5 separate regions of the Homo sapiens genome follow, and all the other regions are reported to be linked to region 1. The links are microRNA targets in miRTarBase. Many come from high-throughput screens and were not tested one by one. Region 1 holds a microRNA gene; each other region holds the end of a gene's coding sequence.

What was found. The annotated mature microRNA hsa-miR-6803-5p reads CUGGGGGUGGGGGGCUGGGCGU and lies in region 1 at 2,130-2,151, opposite strand. An mRNA with a match to its seed (bases 2 to 7 or 8) in the 3' UTR can be bound and repressed. Matches are read on the target gene's strand: a 7mer-m8 pairs with bases 2 to 8, a 7mer-A1 pairs with bases 2 to 7 and ends in A, and an 8mer does both.
Region 2: miRTarBase lists CAPN15 as a target of hsa-miR-6803-5p. Seed matches in the 3' UTR shown: 7mer-m8 at 347-353.
Region 3: miRTarBase lists DFFA as a target of hsa-miR-6803-5p. Seed matches in the 3' UTR shown: 7mer-m8 at 1,561-1,567.
Region 4: the mRNA of MEAF6 is a reported target of hsa-miR-6803-5p. Seed matches in the 3' UTR shown: 7mer-A1 at 2,494-2,500.
Region 5: miRTarBase lists MID1IP1 as a target of hsa-miR-6803-5p. Seed matches in the 3' UTR shown: 7mer-m8 at 862-868 and 7mer-m8 at 899-905.

What each region holds. Positions count from the first base shown.
Region 1 is chr19:55,243,095-55,247,693 of GRCh38, forward strand. MIR6803 (microRNA 6803) reads right to left here and starts at 2,156; the gene lies at 2,092-2,156. It overlaps PPP6R1 (protein phosphatase 6 regulatory subunit 1), which reads right to left. Exons shown (of 24, transcript NM_014931.4): 2 at 3,783-4,015; 3 at 2,398-2,584; 4 at 2,171-2,308; 5 at 2,026-2,091. The coding sequence starts at 4,009.
Region 2 is chr16:553,213-556,212 of GRCh38, forward strand. It overlaps CAPN15 (calpain 15), which reads left to right. Exons shown (of 14, transcript NM_005632.3): 14 at 127-1,424. The coding sequence ends at 304. Among named protein-coding and RNA genes, the nearest start is that of PRR35, 5.7 kb to the right of the region's middle.
Region 3 is chr1:10,458,743-10,461,742 of GRCh38, reverse strand. It overlaps DFFA (DNA fragmentation factor subunit alpha), which reads left to right. Exons shown (of 6, transcript NM_004401.3): 6 at 41-3,000. The coding sequence ends at 253. Among named protein-coding and RNA genes, the nearest start is that of CORT, 10 kb to the right of the region's middle.
Region 4 is chr1:37,491,304-37,494,303 of GRCh38, forward strand. It overlaps MEAF6 (MYST/Esa1 associated factor 6), which reads right to left. Exons shown (of 7, transcript NM_001270875.3): 7 at 1-2,804. The coding sequence ends at 2,796. Among named protein-coding and RNA genes, the nearest start is that of MIR5581, 8.2 kb to the right of the region's middle.
Region 5 is chrX:38,805,300-38,808,299 of GRCh38, forward strand. MID1IP1 (MID1 interacting protein 1) reads left to right here. Exons shown (of 3, transcript NM_021242.6): 3 at 1-1,233. The coding sequence ends at 199. Among named protein-coding and RNA genes, the nearest start is that of MID1IP1-AS1, 2.9 kb to the left of the region's middle.

The DNA of each region.
Region 1 (4,599 bases):
CATGCCTATAATCCCAGCAGTCTGAAAGGCCGAGGTGGGGCCGGGCGCGGTGGCTCACGCCTGTAATCCCAGCACTTTGGGAGGCCGAGGCAGGTGGATCACGAGGTCAGGAGTTTGAGACCAGCCTGGCCAACATGGTGAAACCCCATCTCTACTAAAAATAAAAAAATTAGCCAGGCGCAGTGGTAGGCGCCTGTAGTCCCAGCTACTCGGGAGGCTGAGGCAGGAGAATCGCTTGAACCTGGGAGGTGGAGGCTGCAGTGAGCCGAGATCGTGCCACTGCACTCTAGACAGAGCGAGACTCCATCTCAAAAAAAAAAAAAAAAAAAGAAAGGCCAAGGTGGCAGGATCACTTGAGCCCAGGAGTTTGAGACCAGTCGGGGCAACATAGCAAAACTCTATCTCTACAAATACAAAAAAATTAGCCAAGAATGGTGGTGTGCATCTCTAGTTCCAGCTGTTCATGAGGCAGAGGCAGGAGGATTGCTTGAGCCCAGGGGGGTCAAGGCTACAGTGAGGCAAGATCACGCCACTGCACTCCAGCCTGGGCAACAGAGCAAGACACTGTCTCAAAAAAAAGACACGGCCTCTACATCACCCCAGGCTTGAGCGCAGTGGTGCCATCACAGCTCACTGCAGCCCTGAACTCCTGGGCCCAAGAGATCCTCCCGTCTCAGACTCTTGAGTAGCTAGGATTACAGGTGTGCACCACCAATGCCAGCTAATTTTTCAATTTTTTGTAGCGACAACGTCTTGCTATGTTGCCCAGGCTAGTCTCAAACTCCTGGGCTCAAGCAATCCTCCAGCCTCACCTGCCAAAGCGCTGGGATTACAGGCAGGACTTGTTTTTTGGAGTGATAAAAAATAATCTAAATTCAACAAGATGATAAACGCTTTGAATACCCTAAAAGCGCTGAATCGTAAGCTTCGGTGGGTGAGTGGTATGCTGTGCAATTTACATCTCAGTAAAGCTGCTACAAAAGAGAGAAAAGAGAGAAGCATAAGCAGAGCTGAGTCTACCCAACGGGCAGCTGCCAGGGCTTGGCAGTGTGGCCCTGGGCCATGCCTCAGGGTCCTCACAGGGACAGGCCCCAGCCTGGGTGAGCCCAGAGCCATCTCTGCTCTGTAAGCCTGTGCGCCTCTGAGGCAGAAGTTGGCATTGGGAAGGACATGTTGCTCCCAGTGGCCTCGGATATCTGAGGCTCTTGACAAACACCCACTCTACACTAGGCCCTGTGCTGGGCACCAGGACAGAGATGGAGACCCAAGCTGGAGAAACACATGGACATGGGGTCCCCCAGAGCTAAAGGGGAGGATGTGAGGGCGCTTGAAAGCAAGGCTGCTGGACGGACACTTAGAAGGACAGCAAGGGGTTCAATCAGGCAGGAGACAGGGAAAAAGCTGCCAGGCCCAGCAATAGCACAGGCCAGGGTGGGCAGGGACGGATGTGGGGCCAGCGCTTGGACAGGCGATGAGGAGGGCCCCTCCCTGCAAGGCATTATGTGCCAAGTTCCTGGGTCATGAAAAAAACCTTTCCAGCACTTTCGGAGGCCACAGTGGGAGAATCACTTGAGTCAAGTTTCTTTCCTTTTCTCAAAGGGCATGGATACACCTGGTTCTCAATGCTCTCTTTTCTCACCAATTTCTTTTCTTTCTTTTTTTTTTTTTGAGACAGGGTCTCACTGTGTCACCCAGGCTGGAGTGCAGTGGTGTGATCATGACTCACTATAGCCTTGACCTCCCGGCTCAAGCAATCCTCCTACCTGAGCTTCCCAAGTAGCTGGGACTACAGGTGTGCAACACCACACTCAGCTAAGTTTTTACGTAGAGACGGGGTGTTACTATGTTGCCCAAGCTGGTCTCAAACTCATGGGCTCAAGTAATCCTCCCACCTCGCCCTCCCAAAGTGCTGGAATTACAGGCGTGAGCCACTGCGTCCAGCCCCAATTCCTCTTTTAAAAGTGGGGAAGTGGGCATGGGGAAGGAACTCTAAGGGGAATCCGCAGGGGCATCGGCAGCACTCACATTCTCATCCTTCGACGGGTGGATCTGCTCAATCAGCCGCTGGACGATCTTCTCCTCGTTGAGCCACTGAGGGTGAGAAGGCGAGGGATGCATCGCTGTCCACCACGCCCAGCCCCCCACCCCCAGAGGAGCCGGCCCTGCTCACATTGACAACATCCTGCCTCAGCTGAGGCCGCTCCACACAGGTGAGCAGGCGCAGCAGGAGGTCCATGATGGCCGAGGTGCCAATGTGCTGCAGCAGCAGGTCCACGAAGTCATCCTTCTTCCGAAGAAAGGACACGAGCTGGGGGCACACGGGCTGCGTCATGCACAGGGCCTGGCCCAGCCACCACCCCTCAACCCACGGTGGCGCCAGGGTGGGGGCCAGGGCACCTGGTCTGTCTTGCGGTTGATGAGGATGCCCATGACCTTGCTGAAGAAGCTGGCCAGCAGTGGGTTGAGGCTGCCGGTGCTCTGCAGGAAGCCGTAGAGCCGGTTCAGAAGGGACTCATCAGCACCCAGGGCATCATTGATCTGGGGCACATCTGAGGTCAGAATCTCGCAGGCCACACTGGGGTACCTGGGAGGCAAGCACAGGCGGGTGGGGGCTCGGGTCGGAGGCCGGGGGCAGGGGGCGGCAAGGCTCCACCCTCTTCTCTGCACCGGGCACTGGGTTTCTGGGAACTGCAGAGACCCCTGTCCAGGAAGGGGAAAGGGCAGAGGACAGGGTGACGCAGAAACAAGGGCCCACACCAGGCCTCCTCCACCCTGCTAACACCCAACCATCCCATCCTAGGCTCCTTACCACCCCCAAGACAAGCTGGTCCTGAAGCTCCTGCGCTTCCCAATCCCCCAGCAGCTAACACTCATCCCTTTTGCCTCTCAGCGGCTTCACTTGCAACCCCGTATGCTGCCCCAGCTCCGGCTGACTCCTGGAACCTTGCTCAACTTCCAACCTCACCTCCTGCCTCCCTCCTCCAAACTTTCACACGGTGCCTGACGGCTCCAAGACAAGAGCTGCCCCACCAGCGTGCCACTCAAGGCCCTGAGGGGCCACAGTCTGCTCCAGGACTGTGGGGAGGTACCCCTTGGGAGGCTGAGGCAGGCATATCACTTGAGGTCAGAAGTTCAAGACCAGCCTGGGCAACATGGCGAAACCCTGTCTCTACCAAAAATACAAAAATTAGCTGGGCGTGCTGGCTTATAGTCCCAGCTACTTAGGAGGGTGAGGCAGGAGAATCACTTGAACTTGGGAGGAGGAGGTTGCAGTGAGCCGATCATGCCTCTGCACTCCAACCTGGTGATAAAGTGAGTCTCAAAAAAAAAAAAAAAAGTGTCTTTTCAGCATCGCTTGGATTAAAAAATAAGTAAAGTGTCTTCAATAGCAGACAAGTGTTTCACAAACATACAAAAAAAGTTTAATAAAAAGTAAATAAAATAAAAGGCGGCGAATAAAGAGAAAAACCAGCCGGGCATGTCGTCACATGCCTGTGGTCCCAGCTACTCGGGCAACTGAGGCGGGAGGATCACCTGGGCCCGTGAATTTGTGGCTGCCGTGACCCGTGACTGTGCCACTGCCCTCCAGAGCACAGGCTTGGTCTGCACCCGGTGAGCTGTGAGGCCTTGTGCAGGAGCCTGGCTGCTCCCAGCCTCGTCTTCCTCATCCCCAAACTGGAGTTTACTGACACTGACGCATTTCAGGGTAGCTGTGAGGCTTGCGTAGTGAAGGTATGTGTGATGCTGATAGGGACGGGCTGGCCAGGAGCTGGGGAACTCACTTGTAGCGCAGCCGCTCCTCACCGCTATCTGGCGGCTCCTGGGTGACCCAGGCCACCATTGCTTGCAGGTGGGGTGGCTGCAGCAGGAAGTCCAGCAGCTTGCGGTTGACGACCTTGCACTCCTGCAGCACGTCTTCCTCGTCCAGCAGCTCGGGCAGGCTCAGGTCCTCCCGCTCCAGCAGCGTGTCCAGGTGCGAGCTTGTGTGCAGGTCAAACTTCCAAAACATGGCGCCCTGCAGGCATAGACACAACCAGCGCCGCGTCAGACGCCCCAGGGAGTCCCCACTGGACGAGGCACTGACCACAGGGGCTGAGTGCCCACCTTGGGCACAGCCTCTCCCCAAGTCCCAGCCCTCTGCCTCATGCTGAGCCCGGCCCCGCCCCGGGACTGCCCGCAGGCTCACTGCCTCCATCACTCAGGCTTAAGGCTCCCAGTGAGCACCAGGCTCCTGCAGTTGCCCTCGAGCCTGCCCCTCTTCCCCCATCTCCAGCCTCCCGGCCGCCTCGCCTGAGGTCCAGGGGGTCATTTCACACCTGAGGCCTCAGGCCTGGTGAAGTCCCCAGGTGTGGACCATGTGCAGGGCCTGCGAGAAGAGGCTGGACCCTGTGCACTGAGGGGCCTCGGGCCCTGTCTCCCCATGAGGGTCTGGGTCCACTATCCCTACTTTTGGGAGAGACACTGCAGAGGCAGGGCCTTAACCTCTGGCTTCAAATTTGCTTCAACCTGTATTTGCTCAACAAACTCAGATGCCCGATGACTTCCAGCACACGGCTGCTGCTTGGCCCAGCAAATCCCCCAAGGCTACGTGGGAGGCAT
Region 2 (3,000 bases), not on the chromosome of region 1:
CCCTGCCCCCACCCCTGTACGGGTGTTTGTCACCCCACTCCTGCTCCTGCCCCTGTACAGGTGGGCACAGCCCTGCCCCCATCCCCACCCTGCCCTCCACAGGTCCTCACCGGTCCCCTCCCCCAGGCAGGTCCTGGTGATCTTGTCCCAGCTAGAGGGCAACGCCGGCTTCTCTATCACCCACCGCCTGGCACATCGCAAGGCAGCCCAGGCCTTCCTCAGTGACTGGACAGCCTCCAAGGGGACCCACAGCCCCCCACTCACGCCAGAGGTCGCCGGTCTGCATGGGCCCCGACCGCTGTGACCACCATGCCTGGGGCAGGGGCTGTGCACAGACGGACCCCCCACCCCCACACGCACTTTATGAGGGAGACCCCGACAGAGGACGCTTGAGCCAGAATCTCAGGACCCCGCCCAGGGAGCTGCCAGCCCAGGGCTCAGCTTCCCATGGGCCCCCCGCCCCCCTCCTTCCCCTCCCTGAACCCCACAGTCCGCCTGGCCAGGCCTCCTGGCCGCCACGCAGAATACCTCGAACCAGGCGGGCTGTGAACCAGCCCCGCTCACCTGCCAGCCCCAACACCCGACGGGGGCCGAGGCCAGGCTGCCCCTCCCTGTGGGCTCAGGGTCTCCTGCGGGCTAGGCAGCCAGGAGCTCTGTCCGCAAAACCAAATCTGGGTGTCAGAGGCCAAGACCCTGGGGTGGGATCAGGGACCACCCCTCACGGGGCATAAGGTCAGTTTTCCCCCAGAGCCCGGGTCCCTGTCCCCCACAGGGCAGGCGGGGTCCCTGGAGCCCTGGTGTGGAGCGGCGAGTCCCGGGGCGGTGCCTGTCTCAGAAGAAGGGGCCCTTGGCCAGCCCCCCAGCGACACTATGCAAATCCTGGAGTGCCCGCCAGGATCGAAGCCATGACTGGGTGCAGGCGGGCGCCAGGCCCGCTGTGGGTGGGCACCAGTTCTCAGCACCGCTCACTGCTGCCGGGCACACTGGGACCAGCAGGCTCCTCAGCCAACCCTGTCCCTCGGCCCGGCCCTGCCAGAGAGGGACCCCAGCACATCGTGGGCACGGGCAGGGCTCAGCCGCTCCCACCTCCCCACAGAAGCCCAGGAGTGTGTGGACGTCTGAGCCCAGCTTTCTGCGTGCCCTCCTGGCCCCTCACTCCCGGCAGCGGGCCGGCCTCGCCCCCACTCCCCCTCCTACCCCGGCAGGGGCTTCCGGGGCCTTTTCACCTGGAGAAACATTCCCACTCCCCTTTGGCCTCCCTGTACTCTGAGCTGTGAATATTTTTAACCCTGTAAATACGGCCAGCTCTTGTGACACAGAGACTATTTTATCAATTGTCAGTCCCGTTCCTTTACCATAGGATTCTCCACAGTGGCTTCCGACTCAGGCTCCAATGGACCAAATAAAAGCGTTTTGTTTTGTAATCACGCCTCCTCCTCCTGCTGTTGCCCCGCGCAGGGCCCTGTGGAAGGGCGGGGAGGTTGCAGGTCTGAGGGGTAGGCCCTGCCCAGGCATCCCGGGCAGGCGGACGGGTGGGGGCCCCTGGAGATGGCCGTGGTGGGGTGACTCACAAGCTTGTAAGGGGCAGCCGGCCCTGCCAAATGGACGCAGCCAGGAAGGACGGAGTGACTGGGCGGGGGCAGGGGTCAGACCCTGCGGCCGCAGCCCCAGGGCCGGGAAGGACTGGGCAGACGGGACAGCAGCGCATGCAGCTTCTTCCAGCGAGGCATCCGCACGGGGGGCTCTGTCTGAACCCATCAGTCACCCGGCAGGAGCAGATGGAGTGAGGGGGCGCGTGGGGAGAAAAGTTTCCTGTCCCCTCCCAGCCTCGTCCCAGGGTGGCCTCTGCCCCCACACGGGTGCTGCTGAGCAAAGCGCCCGCTCGGAGGCTCTGCTGTCTCCCTGGACGGAGTTGGGGGCTGGGGTGCGGCCGGCGCGGGGTAAGAGGCTGTCACGGGCAGCGTATCGAATGTGAAAGCAATTAAAGCCACCAGCAGTGTTCGCTCCGGGCGGGCCTCGGGCGGCGGGGAGCTGCCAGAACACATCTCACCTCGGTGCCCGCGGACGCCGGCCCTGCTGCTCCGCGACTGCGCCACGTCACACTCCTCCTGTGGGTGGGGGCCGGGCTCGTGCCCGCTCCTGTTTGGCACAGAGCTGGCTCTGTCTAGTCCTGGGGTATCTGGGACCCCCGTTCCTCCCGAGACCCTGCTCCTCTGTCCCTGGCCCCACCCCCACCACCACCCACCTCTCTGGCTTCTGCCACCCCAGTCCTGGGGTGGCCCAGGACAGAGGCCCACAAGAAGGACCCTCCTTCTTGCAGGAGTCCCGCACAGCAGGCAAGGGGTCCGTGCCCACCCCCTCAGCTGCCCAGAGTCCCCACTAGCCCAGCCAGCAGCCTCCTCTCCACTTGAAAGCCCCCGGGAGCAGCTCCCACAGGGAGGTGATGAGGGAAAGGGGGGGCGTCTGCAGAGGACTCAGGGTCCCACAGCACAGACCCTGCCAGGTGTTGGGCCGGGGCCACGTGAGGGGCTGCTGCGGAGGCCTGGAGGAGGCGGCTGGCAGCAGGTAAGGGGAAAAGATGCGAGCGTCCTGCAGGCAGCAGGGAGGATTGGCTGGGCAGGACACACAGCCCTGGCGCGGGGCAGACCTTGGTGGCAGCTGTCGGGGCTGACTCCTTCCCACTGTCACTGCCCGGCCCCCGCCCAGCCCTCCCCTCCCTTCTCTGTGCAGGCCTCTCCCCTCCCCCGCATCTCCTCCTGGGTCTCACCCCCACCAACAGCACCATCTCTCTGGTGTATCTGGTCTGTCCCAGCCCTGTGCCCCCACGGTGCCCTCTCCTGGCCCCTCTTGTTGGCGCTGCTGGCCACAGCCTTCCCGGGGTGGGCAGTGGCAAGTTCTCACTTATGAGGCATCGCTGTCAGAAGCATTTAGTGTACAAATTAGCCGTGGCCTCCTCGCCTCCTTCCACAGCTCTGGGCTCCAGGCTGACTGGGCCGCGGC
Region 3 (3,000 bases), not on the chromosome of region 1:
CAGAAGGCCCAGTTCTCAGGGGTTTTTATTCTTGCTGCAGTTGGTTACCAAGGAAGACCCCAAAGCACTGGCTGTTGCCTTGAACTGGGACATAAAGAAGACGGAGACTGTTCAGGAGGCCTGTGAGCGGGAGCTCGCCCTGCGCCTGCAGCAGACGCAGAGCTTGCATTCTCTCCGGAGCATCTCAGCAAGCAAGGCCTCACCACCTGGTGACCTGCAGAATCCTAAGCGAGCCAGACAGGATCCCACATAGCAGCAGCGGGAAGTGTGCCAAGGAAGCTCTGTGGCGTTGTGTTATTGGTAGACACCCTCAGCCTCATCATTTGACTACCTATGTACTACTCTACCCCCTGCCTTAGAGCACCTTCCAGAGAAGCTATTCCAGGTCTCAACATACGCCGTTCCACCAATTTTTTTTTTAGCCCCACCAGCTTCAGGACTTCTGCCAATTTTGAATGATATAGCTGCACCAACAATATCCCGCCTCCTCTAATTACATATGATGTTCTCTGTTCAAAAGTAATTGGCAGTGATTGGCCAGGCGCAGTGGCTCACGCCTGTAATCCCAGCACTGGGAGGCCGAGGGGGGCGGATCGTGAAGTCAGGAGATCGAGACCATCCTGGCTAACATGGTGAAACCCTGTCTCTACTAAAAATACAAAAAAAATTAGCCAGCCATGGTGGCGGGCGCCTGTAATCCCAGCTACTTGGGAGGCTGAGGCAGGAGAATGGCATGAACCTGGGAGGCAGAGCTTGCAGTGAGCTGAGATTGCGCCACTGCACTCCAGCCTGGGCAACAGAGCGAGACTCCGTCTCAAAAAAAAAAAAAAAAAAAGTAATTGGCAGTGACTATGGGCGCACTGCCTAACATTTAGCCCTGCCCCATATGGAACATGTTAAAAAAAAAAAAAGCCAGGCCGAGCGTGTTGGCTCACGCTTGTAATCCCAGCACTTTGGGAGGCCGAGGCGGGTGGATCACGAGGTCAGGAGATCGAGACCATCCTGGCTAACACAGTGAAACGTGTTTTTACTAAAAGTACAAAAAACTAGCTGGGCGTGGTGGCAGGAGCCTGTAGTCCCAGCTACTCGGGAGGCTGAGGCAGGAGAATTGCTTGAACCGGGGAGGCAGAAGTTGCAGTGAGCCGAGATTATGCCACTGTACTCCAGCCTGGGTGACAGAGTGACACTCTGTCTCAAAAAAAAAAAAAAAAAGGACAGGCACGACAGTGGCTCACACCTTTGATCCCAGCACTTTGGAGGCCGATGCAGGCGGATCACATGAGGTCAGGAGTTCAAGACCAACCTGGCCAATATGGTGAAACCCCGTCTCTACTAAAAATACAAAAATTAGCTGGGCATGATGGCGGGTGCCTGTAATCCCAGCTACTCGGTAGGCAGAGGTTGCAGTGAGCTGAGAGCGCACCACTGCACTCCAGCCTGGGTGACAGAGCTAGACTCCGTATCTCAAGAAAAAAAAAAAGTTTTGTTTTGTTTTTTTGAGACAGAGTCTCACTCTGTCACCTAGTCTGGAGTGCAGTGGCACATTCTCGGCTCACTGCAACCCCCACCTCCCAGGTTCAAGCGATTCTCCTGTTTCAGCCTCCTGAGCAGCTGGGATTACAGGCACGTGCCACCATGCCCGGCTAATTTTTGTATTTTTAGTAGAGACAGGGTTTTGTCACATTGGCCAGGCTGGTCTCAAACTCCTGACCTCAGGTGATCCACCCACCTCAGCCTCCCAAAGTGCTGGGATTACAGGTGTGAGCCACCACCCCTGGCCAGAAAAAAAAGCTTTTAAATAAAGTAATTGTCAGCTTAGGCAACATAGCAAGACCCTGTCTCTACAAAAAAAAAATTTAAGTTAGCCAGGCATGGTGGCACTGACCTATAATCCTAGCTACTCTGGAGGCTAAGGCGAGAGTATCACTTGAGCCCAGGAGCTCAAGGCTGATCATGCCACCATACTCCAGCCTGGATGATAGAGTAAGACCCTACTTTTTTTTTTTTTTTTTTAAAAAGGTAACCATCAAGGGCAATGAAAAGAAATGGTCGTATTTCCAATTCATTATCCTTATTCTGAAGATAGTACGGCAGAATTTTAAGCAGAGATAGTGGTGAAGATGGTGACATTATAGAGTGTTGACTATGGCCACAATCTTGTTTCTCCAGTTAATGAATTTTTTTATGTGTTTGTTTAAAGATACATATTAAGCTTGTAGACCATAGGGACATACGGAGAGTCCATTGCTAATATCTCACTCAGTATTGTGAAATTCTATCTCACCACCGTGAAACTCTTCAGTTTTCTAATTGCTTTATCAGCAGGGGGTATAAAAGGTCATGAAAGCAATTTCCACATGCTGTGGCTCCAGGTCTCTGGGTGTGAAGCAGAGCAAGCCTGGTTTGTCCTCCTCCTGTCTCCACACAGACGGCTTCTGCAGGTTTGGTAATCTACAGTACACTCCTTGCAGGGAAAAGGTGATGAGTCATCATGGACTTATTTGACCACTTTTTATGCATGCTTAGAGGAAAACAGAATACTGTTAAGAGATTCATCTGCTAGTTATTAAGTAAAGAAATATCACAATAGGCCGGGCGCAGTGGCTCACACCTGTAATCCCAGCATTTTGGGAGGCCAAGGTGGGCGGATCACCTGAGGTCAGGAGTTCGAGACCAGCCTAGCCAACATGGTGAAACCCCGTCTCTACTGAAATTATAAAAAATTAGCCGGGTGTAGTGGTACACGCCTGTAGTCCCAGTTACTTGGGAGGCTGAGGCATGAGAATTGCTTGAACCCAGGAAGTGGAGGTGGAGGTGAGCCGAAATTGTGCCACTGTACTCCAGCCTGCAACAGAGTGAGACACTGTCACACAAAAAAGAAAGAAATATCACAATATGTCACAATAGGCCGGGCGCAGTGGCTCACACCTGCAGTCCCAGCACTTTGGGAGGCCAAGGCAGATGGATCACCTGAGGTCAGGAGTTTGAGACCAGCCTGGC
Region 4 (3,000 bases), not on the chromosome of region 1:
AGACCAGCCTGCCCATCATGGCAAAACCCCATCTCCACTAAAAATACAAAACTTAGATGGGCATGGTGGTGCATGCCTGTAGTCCCAGCTACTGGGGAGGCTGAGGCAGGAGAATTGCTTGATACCTATAATCCCAGCACTTTGGGAGGCCAAGGCAGAAGGACTGCTTGAGGCCAGGAGGACTGCTTGAGGCCAGCCTGGGCAACATAGCAAGAAGCCATCATTACAAAATAAAAATGTTTTAAATTAGCTGGGAATGGTGGCATGCACCTATAGTCCCAGGTACTAGTAAGGCTGAAGCAGGAAGATGGCTTGACCCCAGAAGTTCGAGGCTGCACTGAGCTTTGATCAGGCCGCTGCACTCCAGCCTGGGTGACAGAGCAAGATCCTGTCAATAAATAAATAAATAAATAAATAAATAAATAAAATATATAAATACTTAAATAATCTTTTTAAGAGCAGTACTATTCTGTCTCCAGCAATGTCAAACTATGAGAGTCAAAAATATTTTAAGGTCTGCTGTGTGCTTTCCTCAGAGGGAAGGAAACTAGGCATCCCACTGCAGTTTCATAAATACGTAAATAATCTTTTTAAGAGCAGTACTATTCTTTCTTTTTTTTTTTTTTTTTGACAGAGTCTCGCTCTGTCGCCCAGGCTGCTGGAGTGCAGTGGCGCAACAGAGCAGTACTATTCCATCTCTAGCAATCTCAAACTGTTAAGAGTCAAAAATATTTTTTTTTTTTGAGATGGAGTCTCGCTCTGTCGCCCAGGCTGGAGTGCAGTGGCACTATCTCAGCTCACTGTAAGCTCCGCCTCCCAGGTTCATGCCATTCTCCTGCCTCAGCCTCCCGAGTAGCTGGGACTACCGGCACCCGCCACCACGCTCAGCTAATTTTTTGCATTTTTAGTAGAGATGGGGTTTCACTGTGTTCGCCAGGATGGTCTCGATCTCCTGACCTCGTGATCCGCCCGCTTCGGCCTCCCAAAGTGCTGGGATTACAGGTGTGAGCCACCGCACCCAGCCCAAGAGTCAAAAATATTTTAAGGTCTGCTGTGTGCTTTCCCCAAAAGGAAGGAAACTGTAGGCATCCCACTCCTCCCTCCCAGCAAAGGAGACCAACAGACAAAAAATACAGAATGCTTCTAGGATTTTTTTTTTTAAGGAATAATCTAAATATAAGAAACTATTTCCTTAAAAATCCTGACACTGGAGTTCTGCTACCAAAGACACAGTCAAAGATCTAAATAGCCAGAGTCAAAAAAAAAAAAAAAAAAAAACCCACAAAAGTTTATTTGAGAACAAGAGTGAAAGCTTTTGCACATCTGACAAGGTAGACTTGTTTTACAGTAGATGCCATCCATATTCAGCCCTACCAATACTATCACAAATGAAACATACTATTTCTTACAAAGATATAGGCATAAGTCAAGGACTATGACTAACTAGAGTGAAAGGAAAGGTTAGACCCCAAATCTTATCCCTTAGACCAATCATAACATAGGATGTAAATTAAACCATTCAGTCTTCTAATGTAGTGGTTCTCAACCTGGCTTCTTATCAGAATCCCAGGAACTCTTTTAAAGAAATTCCCAATAACTAGGCTGTACCCCAGTCTCTAGGGATGGGATCCAGGCATGAGTATTTTAAAGCTTCTCAGGTGATTCCAATGTGCAGCCAGACCCTGTCGCAAGTTCACCACAGCACTAGAGGCAGGTAACGATTACTAGCAGATTCCTCAGCCCCAACAAGCCCTCCAAGAAAGGGAGACCTGGTGGGCAACACTGGCTCTCACTGATGCTATCCTTTCACTCCACTTAAGAACGACATAAGTTATCACTTTTGGTATAATTTTGAGACTTTCCATATGCCATGGTGATTTTTAGAGCAATATTTAATCAGGTGAATACCAGCAAAGAGAGAAAATACAGAAAAAGAAATTTCCATAAGGCATGATATGAATAAATAAGTGAAAAAACAATCTCGGGTTTAAAAGTAAAGCATGAGAATTTGAAGCCTGTGAAATTTTATTTATACAAAAGAATAAAAAGTTATTTAAAAAGAACTGATTTAAACTTATGTTTTTCCATTTTTCCTGTTCCTTGAACATGAATCTACTACCAACTCAGAAAGATTTAAGATAGGTAATTACTAAACACTCTTTACCTCCCCTTGCAAAAAACAGAGGCAAGTTTCCCATTTTACTTATGATAAACCAGATTATTTTCAGTTATGAATATTGGCAACTGCATGAAAGAGATGATCAGATATGTCAGCAGGAAAGTATGAGCTGTACAAAGGCATTACAAAAAAACCCCAAAGAAAATAAGATAAAAACAACAAGAGAAAAACAAGAAAACATAAAACAATATAAGAAAATGCCAGATATTTACAGCCTCCATCTGAAATGTGACTTGTGTTCTACTTTCAGCATAAAACAAAACCAGAGAACATTTCTTGAAGGGTATCACAGATGAAGCTGGTGCCAGCCAGTTTTGGGGGAGACATTCATTCTAAGAAGGGAGAAACGCACAGTTAGCAACTTGCTGGGATTACAACATTGTCTTCATCTTCCTGCAGTTCTGTTACTAAAAATGACATAAAGTAAGACCCAATGTCTTACAGAAATGACTTGTTTGTCACCACATTTAGAACAAACTACTCAAAGTCACAGGCACTGGGTCTGGGAGAGCAGAGGTGGATGGCCACGAACTCAGGTGAAGGATGTTTATCTTTGTGAGGTCAGAGAAGGGAAGCAGGGCTCTACAGCCTGGAAGCTTCTGCACTAATGTGTCTTCTAATAGTCCTAAAGAAAGAAAAACAAAAGTCCCAACTTACTCTCGGCAGAACAGTTGTTTGACCCTAAAGGAAAAAAAAAATCTCATAAACAACTCTACTAGGGGACTGCTCTATAGCTAAAGATTATATTTCAGGCCAGGCACAGTGGCTCACACCTGTAATCCCAGCACTTTGGGAAGCCGAGGCAGGGAGATCACGAGGTC
Region 5 (3,000 bases), not on the chromosome of region 1:
CAGTGCCTGGAAGTCCAAGGACATCCTGGTGGACCTGGGCCACTTGGAGGGTGCGGACGCCGGCGAAGAAGACCTGGAACAGCAGTTCCACTACCACCTGCGCGGGCTGCACACTGTGCTCTCGAAACTCACGCGCAAAGCCAACATCCTCACTAACAGATACAAGCAGGAGATCGGCTTCGGCAATTGGGGCCACTGAGGCGTGGCGCCCGTGGCTGCCCAGCACCTTCTTCGACCCATCTCACCCTCTCTCATTCCTCAAAGCTTTTTTTTTTTTTCCTGGCTGGGGGGCGGGAAGGGCAGACTGCAAACTGGGGGGCTGCGTACGTGCAGGAGGCGCGGTGGGGCTGCGTGGAGGAGGGGGCCACGTGTGAGAGAGAAGAAAATGGTGGCCGGAGATGGGAGGGCCCAAGGAACCTCCTGGGAGGGGGCCTGCATTCTATGTTGGTGGGAATGGGACTGGGCTGACGCCCTGCATTCAGCCTGTGCCTTTCCTGGGGTTTCTTTTCTGTTCTTTTCGGAGGAGAGGGCCCGAGAAGGGGCCATACCAGGGCGCGGCGCTGGGTTGCCACACTTGGGAAAGCAGCCCGGAGCTGGGTGCTGGGGAAGGCGGGGCGCGTAGCCTCCCGCCGCCCTGCGGTTGGGCCGGTGGAGGCCCAGGCGTTGCTAGGATTGCATCAGTTTTCCTGTTTGCACTATTTCTTTTTGTAACATTGGCCCTGTGTGAAGTATTTCGAATCTCCTCCTTGCTCTGAAACTTCAGCGATTCCATTGTGATAAGCGCACAAACAGCACTGTCTGTCGGTAATCGGTACTACTTTATTAATGATTTTCTGTTACACTGTATAGTAGTCCTATGGCACCCCCACCCCATCCCTTTCGTGCCACTCCCGTCCCCACCCCCACCCCAGTGTGTATAAGCTGGCATTTCGCCAGCTTGTACGTAGCTTGCCACTCAGTGAAAATAATAACATTATTATGAGAAAGTGGACTTAACCGAAATGGAACCAACTGACATTCTATCGTGTTGTACATAGAATGATGAAGGGTTCCACTGTTGTTGTATGTCTTAAATTTATTTAAAACTTTTTTTAATCCAGATGTAGACTATATTCTAAAAAATAAAAAAGCAAATGTGTCAACTAAATTGGACAAGCGTCTGGTCCTCATTAATCTGCCAATGAATGGTTTCGTCATTAAATAAAAATCAATTTAATTGATTTACTAGCAAAAGTAAATTTTGTGTTCTCTCTGGTATTTCATGGTGGTGGATATTCATCTGTGCAAGTATTTAGCTTTGTTTGGGAACTAGGTACTGACAAAATTTACTTCCAAACTTTATTTCTAATTCAGTACCAAGATAAGACCATACATCTCAACAAAAAGTTCAGAAATATTTAAAATATTTGGGAAGGTACATATATTGTATCTTTCAACCAATTTGGCTAACTTATTGGAGTGCGTAATTAACATTTTGAATTTTTTAAGAAGCTCAAGCACAAGCTAAAGTGTTTTGAGGCATAAAAACAAGGCTGAAATTTCACTTGGTTACTGAGAAGTGAAAATTAGAAGGGAAGACCAGCTAATCCTAGTGCACACACCTTACAGGTTTTTATGTTTATCTGAGTAGACATTTAAATGCATTACAACATGATCGATGACTTCTTTCACTAGTTCCAAAAAGGGCTAAGCTTTGTTGAGCGGCGTCCAGTAATGCTTCCAGTTTTTCAGTGAGCCAGTCTGCAATTGTGGACAGCAGTTCTGATCAAGGCTGCTGTGGAGCCCTTGGGAATGCTTAGGTGCCATTATGATGCTCTGCTGGGATGGTGGGAAAGGTAAAAGAATGTGCTCTGCATATTCTTTATTTCATTATTTGTTTTGGGGTATAAATGTCAGATCAACTTGTTGAAGTCATGAGGCATTCTCTAAGCTCGTAGGGCTTGAATTTAAAATACATATAAGTTAGCGGTCTTAAAAAACAAGCAAAATGTTTTGTGGTGCTGGCGGGCAGGGGCAGTTCAAGTCTATCAGCTTTTAGCAGCAGTGAAAAAAAATGTGGAAGTGTCAAGATGGGTGCTTGCCAGTTGCCAGAGAAAGTTAATCTTTAATTTGTATAAAGATAAGCTAGGCAGCACCAAAAGTAAGGCATACAGCCTCTTGTCTCGTGTCCCCTTTAAAATATCAAAGTGCAAGCAAAAAATAAAGGAAACTGAAAAAAAGAAAAAAGCTGCATGGTAGAAACACAAAGACTTTCAAAGACTTTGGAGCCAGAAACTGTGCAAATCCTCTTGCTACTAATTGTGTGCATTTAACTTCATGCCTGTTGCCACATTAGTAATCAGGCATAAAAATAACTACACTGCTTCATGGAGTTGCAGTGAGAATTAAATGAGATTATATATAAAGTGTTTGAGGCTTAAAATTTTCTTTAGGCACTGCTGAAATGCTTTACAAGTTTCTCTCTTTTTTGATGTTTACAGTGATTACATTTATCTAAGCAACTTTCATACATGTTCAGTTTTAACATATTGACTACTCTGACAAATATGCTTAAAAAAAGCAATAACATTATAGAGTTAATGCAGAGTCCTAAGGATAGTCTAGTAGCCACTAAGTTTTTTCTTAAGTCTTCACTTTAGATGCTGTTATTTCTAGCACAAGCAAGCAGAGTCTTTCATATGCTTACACCCTGGAGTCTTTGGTTGCTACCATTATCAGCTGGCTTGCAAACCAGAAGCCAACCATTTTAGGAATGCTTTAAGTGAACAACATGCAAACCCCAGGGATGGAAAAAACCCTAAGAATGCCCAATTATGAGCATTTACAACCATCACAACTGTGGCTGAAGACTATGCCCTTCTGAAATGAGATCTTAAAGCAGTATAGTTTGAAACAAAAGGTTTTAGCAAAAAAATGACATATGCACAATTTCTCCACCACTTTGTGTGAGTCAACCATTTAGTTAACTTTTCCACTTGAAAAAATGCAATAGAAAACCGG